Homo sapiens: one gene and its partners. The protein of the gene in region 1 purifies or fractionates together with the protein of each later gene. This does not show direct contact. Each region holds a gene or a part of one and is shown on either strand. Other genes may lie near its edges.

The links.
Region 2: the proteins of FSD2 (region 1) and LETM1 purify together in Homo sapiens (co-immunoprecipitation; 2 studies listed by BioGRID and IntAct, with this or other methods). This does not show direct contact.
Region 3: the proteins of FSD2 (region 1) and SLC27A4 purify together in Homo sapiens (co-immunoprecipitation; 2 studies listed by BioGRID and IntAct, with this or other methods). This does not show direct contact.

The regions. Positions count from the first base shown.
Region 1 is NC_000015.10:82,785,473-82,789,128, reverse strand, and holds part of FSD2 (fibronectin type III and SPRY domain-containing protein 2), read left to right. Parts: intron 1-1,660; 5' UTR 1,661-1,738; coding exon 1,739-2,377; intron 2,378-2,522; coding exon 2,523-2,618; intron 2,619-3,656.
Region 2 is NC_000004.12:1,846,098-1,849,753, reverse strand, and holds part of LETM1 (mitochondrial proton/calcium exchanger protein precursor), read left to right. Parts: intron 1-544; coding exon 545-605; intron 606-3,656. UniProt on the Homo sapiens protein: Plays an important role in maintenance of mitochondrial morphology and in mediating either calcium or potassium/proton antiport. Mediates proton-dependent calcium efflux from mitochondrion.
Region 3 is NC_000009.12:128,357,507-128,359,884, forward strand, and holds part of SLC27A4 (long-chain fatty acid transport protein 4), read left to right. Parts: intron 1-2,378. UniProt on the Homo sapiens protein: Mediates the levels of long-chain fatty acids (LCFA) in the cell by facilitating their transport across cell membranes. Appears to be the principal fatty acid transporter in small intestinal enterocytes.

The DNA of each region.
Region 1 (3,656 bases):
GCTACTTAAAAAAATTCTGTAGTGGGCATTTTTACATAAAATAATTTTTTTCCTTGTATTTGGGATTTTTCCTCAAGGTTCCAGAAGAGGATTACTAGGTTAGAGAGAGTATGAACAGGCTAGAGAGTATGAACACTTTTTTTTTTTTTTTAGACAGAGTCTTGCTCTGTCGCCCAGGCTGGAGTACACTGGCGCAATCATGGCTCACTGCCTCAGCCTCCCTAGTAGCTGGGACTACAGGCATGCACCACCACACCTGGCAAATGCTTAAATTTTTTGTAGACATGGGGTTTCACTGTGTTGCCTAGGCTGGTCTCAAACTCCTGGCCTCAAGCAATCCTCCTGCCTTGCCCTCCCAAAGTGCTGGGATTACAGGCATGAGTCACCACACCCTGCTGAAAGTGTGAACATCTTTAAGGTTCCTGACCCAGGTTGCCAAGCTTGCTCTTCAGAAAAGTGGGGCCAGTTTACATTCTAGCCGGCAGCATATGAGAGTGCTCACTTCACTGTCCCCTTATCCAGCTGCGGGTATCACTTTTGATATTTTTAAATATTTTCTAACTGAAAAGGCAAAACAGCATCTACTTATTTGTTCTGTCACTTTTTTTTTTTTTTTTTTTTTTTGAGACAGGGTCCTGCTCTGTCACCCAGGCTGGAGCGCAGTGGTGTGATTTAGGCTCACTGCAACCACCACCCCTCAAGGCTCAAGTGATCCTCCCACCTCAGCCTCCCAAGTAGCTGGGACCACACGTGCACACCACTATGCCTGGCATTTTTTTTTTTTTTTGTATTTTTGGTAGAGACAGGGTCTTGCCATGTTGCCCAGGACGATCTCGAACTCCTGAGCTCAAGCAATCCATCTGCCTCAGCCTCCCAAAGTACTGGGATTATGGGCATGAGCCACCACGCCAGGCCTGTTCTGTTACTTTTAAGTACAGTTTTTTTCAAATGTTTTTGTGCAGGTGCTATCATATACAAAAGTAATTGTTTTGTGAATTGTCTGTGCACATTCATCTATTGAGATGCCACTTTTTCAATTAATTTATACAATTTAAAAATAATAGACTGGGCGCAGTGGTTCATGCCTGTAATTCCAGCACTTTGGGAGGCTGAGGTGGGTGAATCACCTGAGGTCAGGAGTTCCAACATAGTGAAAACCCGTCTCTACCAAAAATACAAAAATAAGCTGGGTGTGGTGGCACATACCTGTAATCCCAGCTAGTTGGGAGGTGGAGGCACAAGAATTGCTTGCACCCTGGAGGCAAAGGCTGCAGTCAGCCGAGATCATGCCACTGCACTCTAGCCTGGGTGACAGAGTGAGACTCCATCTCAAAAATAAATTAATAATAATAATAATAATAATTGCCTGAGATGCTTCCCATTATTTTGCCTTTTAAGTTTTTTTTTTAATGTATGAGGGAAGTATTTTGTTGGACATATCTATTAGACATTTCTTTTGTAATTTCTTTTGTCTCTTTTAACCTTAGAAAGCCCATCCTCCCATAGAAAACAAATTTTTTAAAGATGGTTCAAAGTGAAACCACGACTGAACTACACAGATAATTTTTTTAAAGTTTTATATGAGTAGAGCCCAATCTAATGATCATCTACTGCAATGCCCTTCTCCAGAAATGATTTTCCTCCTCCTTTTGTGTTCCAGGGCCCAGATATTCACTATTAAGTGTCCAGGAAGGATCTTTCTTATATAAAGGTGCTTCTGAGGACTTCCAGAGTTACAATGGAGGAGGAATCGGGGGAGGAACTGGGGCTGGACAGGTCTACTCCCAAGGATTTCCACTTTTACCACATGGACCTGTATGACTCTGAAGACAGACTGCACCTCTTTCCAGAAGAGAACACTAGGATGAGGAAAGTAGTCCAAGCTGAAATGGCCAATGAGTCAAGAGGAGCAGGGGATGGTAAGGCTCAAAGAGACCTTCAAGAGGAAGTGGATGAACTTGTCCACTTATATGGACTTGAAGATGATCATGAATTAGGGGATGAGTTTGTTGATGAAAACATACCCAGAACAGGGGTTTCAGAATATCCTCCTTATATGATGAAGAGGAGAGACCCAGCCAGGGAGCAGAGAGACTGGAGACTTAGTGGAGAGGCAGCGGAGGCCGAGGACCTGGGCTTCGGAGGGTGGGGCTCAGCAGGCCAGTGCCAGGACTTGCGGGAAGCCTATAGGTACACACACGGCCGTGCCAGCGAGGAGTATGAATGCTATGTCATCCCCGAGGAAGAGGATGAAGAAGAAGCTGCTGATGTCTTCTGTGTCACTTGTAAGACTCCAATAAGAGCTTTTCAGAAGGTTTTTGATGAACATAAGGAGCATGAAGTGATCCCACTCAATGAAGCACTGGAAAGTGCCAAGGTAAATAGGTGTCCTTGGTTCTTCTCTGTCTTGATATTGCTTTGGTATCTCAAGTACATACGCAGGGAATAAATCTAAAACGCCTTCTACAAGAGTGAGAGAAGATGTAACATTAATACCTTCTTTGTGATCCTCTGTTGGATAGGATGAAATTCACAAAAACATGTACAAATTGGAAAAGCAGATAATTGAGATGGAAAACTTTGCAAATCATTTGGAGGAGGTTTTCATCACTGTGGAGGTAAGAGCACACTTGAAGACCTCATCAGACTCACATTTCTTCCATCAATGGCTATGTCAAGCAGCTGTTTCTGGTATGAGCTAGAGAATCTGTTTTCTTAGAATGTGAGGGGTCACCACTCCCCCTTCTCTCCTCCCTTCTTTCACTGACCTCCCATAGCACCTGGGCATGGACGTCATGGAACCAATTACCTGTCAGCATTCCCTGCTGAACTATAAGCTCTTGGTGTGAAAGCTGGGTCGTCTGTCTCAATATCCCTAGTCCTACTACATGGTATGTTTCAGAGCAGGCATTTTATACATGTTTGTTGCATGAGTAAATAAGGTAGAAATTTCCCAATCACAATCCCTCTCCTTCACTGGCTTCATTTTCTCCTAATCCCCCTTTACCCAAATCACCAATTGTATGTGATTTAGACCCTTATTCGAATTCTTTTTTTAATGTATACTGTTTTCATCATTCAACTTGATAGACCCTTATTCTAACAAAGATGACTTCACGGTGGCATCATCCAGTGAATTCCCTCATTTGAGCCCAGGTGGTGAAGAGGGGACATCCTTTCTTTTGCCCTTGTCTTTTTGGGTTTGTTTATTTGTTTTGGACCTCTTTTTTTGGGGTAGAAGTTCTTACTGAGAATCCCCGGGTTGCTATCTGGTGCATTGGCGGAGAAACCAGAAACAGTGGAGTTCCATGTTGTTCCGTTGGTTTCGGGAGTTGTTAATTTTAGGCTTTTGGGGGTACCTATAATGTTGACTATATAAAGTCAGGTGTAGACTGTCAAACACTTTTTTGTTGTTCTAAGAGGCAAAATACCCACTTCTGCCAATGATCGCTACTCAAACAAAGGAATATTTTTAGCTCTGCATGCATTTAAAAAATAAATTTATGGCTGGGCACGGTGGCTAACGCCTGTAATCCCAGCACTTTGGGAGGCCAAGGCGGGTGGATCACCTGAGGTTAGGAGTTCGAGACCAGACTGGCCAACATGGTGAAATCCCATTTCTACTACTAATAAAAAATTAGCTGGGTGTGGTGCCA
Region 2 (3,656 bases), on another chromosome or scaffold:
CAACAAAACGAAACCCCGTCTTTACAAAAATTAGCCTGGCCTGATGGTGCACACCTGTAGTCCCAGCTACTTGGGAGGCTGAGGCAAAAGGATCCCTTGAGCCCAGGAGTTCAAGGCTGCAGGGAGCCGTGACTGTACCACTGCATTCCAGCCTGGGCAAAGTCAAATAAATCAAAATGAACAAAAGGCTGAGCACGGTGGCTCATGCCTGTAATCCCAGCACTTTGGGAGGCCAAGGCGGGCGGATCACCTGAGGTCGGCAGTTTGAGACCAGCCTGGCCAACATGGTGAATGAAACCCTGTCTCTACTAAAAAAAAAAAATTAGCTGGGCATGGTGGTGGGCACCTGTAATTCCAGCTACTCAGGAGGCTGAGGCAGGAGAATCAATTAAACCCAGGAGGTGGAGGTTGCAGTGAGCCGAGATCACGCCATTGCACTCTAGCCTGGGCGCAAGAGCGAAACTCCAAAAACCAACAACAAAAAAAGGTATCAGTATAAATCCCTGATTTACTACTCATTTATTTTCCCCTGTTCCTGTTACAGGTAGTCCAGGGGATCCTGCTCATCTCAGCTGTGCCAGCACCCTGGGGTTGAGGAACTGCCTGTGAGTAAATCAGTATCACTCTGCACCTGTCTGTTTGAAAACAGGGTTTGAAAATGGTGGAGAGTCACGAGTGACTCTTGATTTTTGAGGGAAACAGTGTATCCTACTTTCCTGTTCTTTGTTTCTTTTAAACCTTTATCTTTCCATTTTGAAAATGATTGTCACATGCCTCAGTGAATCTATAGACAGTATAGAAACATTCCTAACCTCAGTGCCCAGTTGCACTTGGAGAGCTGGGGACAGAAGGCTTCCTGTCCCCTAACAGGAATTAAATGGAATTTAATTGTTGGACTCCCAGTTGGAGTGGGCACTGGCAACTGTGCCCTCAAAGTGCCCAGTGTCAGTATTTTGATGTACAGCAAGTCTCATTTAATGTCTGTAGGTTCTTGGAAACTGCGACTTTTTTTTTTTCTTTTTTTTTTTTTTTTTTTTTGAGACAGAGCCTTGCTCTGTCACCCAGACTGGAGTGCAGTGGCACATGCTTGGCTCACTGCAACCTCCGCCTCCCAGGTTCAAGTGATTCTCCTGCTTCAACCTCCCGAGTAGCTGGGATTGCAGGCATGCCTCACTGCGCCTGGCTAATTTTTTTTTTTTTTTTTTTGAGACGGAGTCTCGCTCTGTCACCCAGGCTGGAGTGCAGTGGCGCAATATCAGCTCACTGCAAGATCCACCTCCCGGGTTCATGCCATCCTCCTGCCTCAGCCTCCCAAGTAGCTGGAACTACAGGCGCCCGCCACCACGCCCGGCTAATTTTTTGTATTTTTAGTAGAGATGGGGTTTCACCGTGTTAGCCAGGATGGTCTCAATCTCCTGACCTCGTGATCCGCCCGCCATGGCCTCCCAAAGTGCTGGGATTACAGGCATGAGCCACCGCGTCCGGCCGCACCTGGCTAATTTTTGTATTTTTATTAGAGACGGGGTTTCACCATGTTGGCCAGGCTGGTCTTGAACTCCTGACCTCCCGTGATCTGCCTGCCTTAGCCTCCCAAAGTGCTGGGATTATAGGTGTGAGCCACCATGCCTGGCAGAAACTGCAACTTTAAGGTCCACGAATAACGTTTTATTATAACTTTGGATGAGAAAAGAAATTGGTTTTCTTATGTCTTTTTCCTTAAGGTTGCATTTTCTTTTTTTTTTTTATTTTTATTTTTTTTGAGACAGAGTCTCGCGCTGTCACCAAGCTGGAATGCAGTGGCGTGATCTCTGCCCACTGCAATCTCCACCTCCCGGGTTCAAGCAGTTATCTGCCTCAGCCTCCCAAGTAGCTGGGATTACAGGCGCGCACACCACACCCAGCTAATTTTTTTTTTTTTTTTTTTTTTTTGAGACCGAGTTTTGTTCTTGTCACCTAGGCTAGAGTGCAGTGGTGCAATCTCGGCTCACTGCAACCTCTGCCTCCCGGGTTCAAGCGATTCTCCTGCCTCAGCCTCCCTAGTAGCTGGGATTAGAGACGCCGCCACCACACCCAGCTAATTTTTGCATTTTTAGTACAAAAGTACAAAATTTTCACCACATTAGCCAGGCTCATCTCAAACTCCTGACCTCAGATGATCCACCTACCTCGGCCTCCCAAAGTGCTGGGATTACAGGTGTGAGCCACTGCGCCTAGCTGCTCCCGTTATTTTCTTTAGTGAGTTCTCCAGCAGTTGTTCCTCCCTGGGGACCAGTTCCCCCAAACCTCGTCAGTCTGGACCTTCCTTCTAGATGAGCTGAACCATTTTACTTCTAAAACAGTCTTTTTGGGATTGTATCTGAAGTGTCATTAAACCAGTTGGGAAGGAATATTACTTTTTTTTTTTTTTTTGAGACAGGATCTCATTCTGTTCATTGCCCAGGCTAGAGTGCAGTGGTGCAATCATGGCTCACTGCAGCTTTGATCTCCCAGGCTCAAGCCATTCTCCCACCTTAGCCTCCTGAGTAGCTGGGACTACAGGCATTACCAACATGCCTTGCTAAATTTTTTTCTTTTTGGTATTTTTTGTAGAGACAGGTTCTCACTATGTTGTCCAGGCTGCTCTTGAACTCCTGGACTCAAGCAGTCCTCCTGCCTTTGGCCTCCCAAAGTGCTGGGATTACAGGTGTGAGCCACTGCACCCGGCCTGTTTTCTTTGTATAGGCCACATGCATTGCATTTTAGATAATTCCCAGATGTTTATTATTTTCATTAATTCTTTTCATTATCTTTTCTAAGTGATCATTGCTGTCCCGTAAGTTGCTAAGTTGTACAATTTTCTTGTATCTGGCCCCTTTCCTGTTATTTGTTCAGCTCTTGTAGCAGCCCAGGTTTAGTTTATGGCTGTGATCTTAGTACATAGTAATCATCTGCCTCTTCTTTCCCAGGGCTTCTGCTTCTGAGGTGGTTTCATTTCTTAGCTCAGTAGCCAGATCTGTGTCAGAACAGCTGTAGTCAGTCATGCGGTATCACAATAGCAGAAAATACAGGATCTAGTGTTTGTGACATATGATGTTAGCTTTTGGGTTTAAGTAATCTTTGTTCTGTCTGTTACTCTTTTTATTAGGAATGGATGTTGAATTTGTCAAGCAACTTTTTAGCATTTAAATTTCATACTAAAACATAAATGCTGGCCGGGCACGGTGGCTCACACCTGTAATCCCAACACTTTTGGAGGCTGAGTCGGGAAGATCACGAGGTCAAGAGTTCAAGACCAGCCTAGCCAACATGGTGAAACCCCATCTCTAATAAAAATACAAAAATCAGCTGGGCATGGTGGTATGTTCTTGTAATCCCAGCTACTCAGGAGGCTGAGGCAGGAGAATTGCTTGAACCGGGACCCGGGAGGTGGCAGTTGCAGTGAGCCAAGATGGCGCCACTGTACTCCAGCCTGGGCTAACAACAAAACATAAAAGCTGTACTTTATTCACGTAACTTTTTTTAAAGTTCCCAATTTTGAACATCTACTTAAAAATTTAAACAATGAGGACTGTACAGCTGTTTTGATGGACTTGTCTACTTATCAAGAATTATGGATGAGGCCGGGCGCAGTGGCTCACGTCTCTAATCCCAGCACTTTGGAAAGTTGAGGTGGGCAG
Region 3 (2,378 bases), on another chromosome or scaffold:
GTGTACGGAGTGGGAGAGGATTGCAGGCAGCCCTGAGGGAGCTGGGAGACGAGGGAGGGGCTGTTGCAGTTGTCCAGGTGGGAGGTGGGCAGCGGGCCCGCAGTCGCCCACAAGGCAGCACCATCTTTCTATCTGTTGGCCCATTGGTGGCTCTCAAGAGTTCCCTGGTGGGCAGGAAATGCTGAGGCTCATGCCCATACCTGCCCCTGCTTTCCTCAGCCCTTGGTGCCTCTTCTGGGCCCTCCCTGGCTGCTCACCCTTTGGAGCACATTTCCCTGGCCACCTCCCACGTTGTCGTCATATCAGTCCTGCCTTGATGGTGGGCACTCCCTAGCCAATGTGGCTTCTGCCAGAGAGTGGGTACCTGGAGTGCCTAAAGCATCGGGGAGGGTTTAGGACTTCAGTGTGGTTCTGAAGGTTGGAGACACTGTGGCCAGGCTAATGGCCAAGACCATGAGCTTCCGGAGGATTGAGCAGCACCATACTTCTGTCCAGGAAAGGCAGGGAGGCTCTCAGACCTTGTATTTCAGATGGGCTTTGCTGCAGAACAAACCACCCCCAAACTTACTTGCCCCAAAATGGCTCGAAACAACCAGTTTATTGATGCATAATTCTGTGGGTAAGCAATTTAGGGGTTAAGTGCAGCTGAGCAGTTCTTCTATTGACCTTGCTTTGGGGTCATCACTTAGTAACTTAGCTGGGGCAAGAGGCAGTTAGATGGCCTCACCCACGTGTCTGGCTCTCGGCTGCTTACCTCTGCAGCACTGTCCAACAGAACTTTCTGCAGCGATGGAAATGTTCTAGGTTTCTGCTGTCCAACACAGTAGCCACTAGCCTGGCAGAGCTACTGAGCACTTGAAAGGTGGCTGCTGGCTGGACGCCGTGGCTCACGCCTGTAATCCCAACACTTTGGGATTAAATTTTGTTTAATTAACTTAAATTTATTTATTTATTTGAGATGGAGTCTTGCTCTATCGCCCAGGCCGGAGTGCAGTGGTGCAATCTCAGCTCACTGCAACCTTTGCCTCCTGGGTTCAAGTGATTCTCCTGTCTCAGCGTCCCCAGTAGCTGGGATTACAGGCACGTGCCACCACACCTGGCTAATTTTTGTATTTTTTTTATTAGACATGGGGTTTTGCCATGTTGGCCAGGCTGGTCTCGAACTCCTGACCTCAGGTGATCCGCCCACCCTGGCCTCCCAAAGTGCCGGGATTACAGGCGTGAGCCACCATGCCTGGCCTTGTTTAATAATTTAAATGTAAATAGCCACATGAGGTCATATTGGACGGCGCCGGTCTGGGCCCTCACCTGGGATGGCTCATCTCTGCTCCACGTGGCCTCTCACCCTTTGGAAGGCTAGACTAGCCCCAGGGCACCCCCAAGCAGGTAGAGGTGGAAGATGCAAGGTCCCCCGAGGCCTAGACTCACCCAGAACTCCTACAACATTGCTTTTGCCACCTTCTGTTGGTTAAAGCAAGTTGTAAAGCCAGTCCAGATTGAGGCCAATGGAGATTGAAAAAGTCGAGCTCTTGCCAGGAGAAGTGCCAAAGCCACATAGCAGAGGTGTGTGTGTACAGGGAGGGGAGGAATCTGCAGCCATTTTTGGTAGTCTGTCTCATCCAGGTTCCAATCCCAGTTCTACCACCCTGAGCATCAGTCTTCTCATCTGTACAGGATTAATACCATTGATTGAAAGATGCGGCCAGGCGTGGCAGCTCATGTTTGTAATCCTAGCACTTTGGGAGGCTGAGGCAGGTAGCTCGCTTGAGCCCAGGAGTTCAAGATCTGGGTGGGCAACATGGCGAAACCCCATCTCTACAAGAAATACAAAACTTGGCCAGGCGCAGTGGCCCACGCCTGTAATCCCAGCACTTTGGGAGGTCGAGGAGGGTGGATCATCTGAGATCAGGAGTTCGAGACCAGCCTGACCAACATGGTGAAACCCCGTCTCTACTAAAAATACAAAAAATTAGCTGGGCGTGGTGGTGGGTGCCTGTAATCCCAGCTACTTGGGAGGCTGAGGCAGGAGAATCGCCTGAACCCGGGAGGCCGAGGTTGCAGTGAGCCAAGATCGTGCCACTGCATTCCAGCCCCGGTGACAGTGCAGGACTCCGTCTCCAATAAAGAAAGAAAGAAAGAATTACAAAACTTAGCCAGGCACAGTGGTGCACACCTATAGTCCTGGCTACTTGGGAGGCTGAGGTAGGAGGATCACTTGAGGTCGGCAGGTGGAGGTTGCAGTGAGTTGAGATGGCATCACTTCACTCCAGCCTGGGTGATAGAGTGAGACCCTGTCTCAATAAAAAAGAAAAAAATACCATGAATTTTTTATGTACGAGTAAGAAAATATGTGCTGCTAATTATACTAGTTCAGAGAT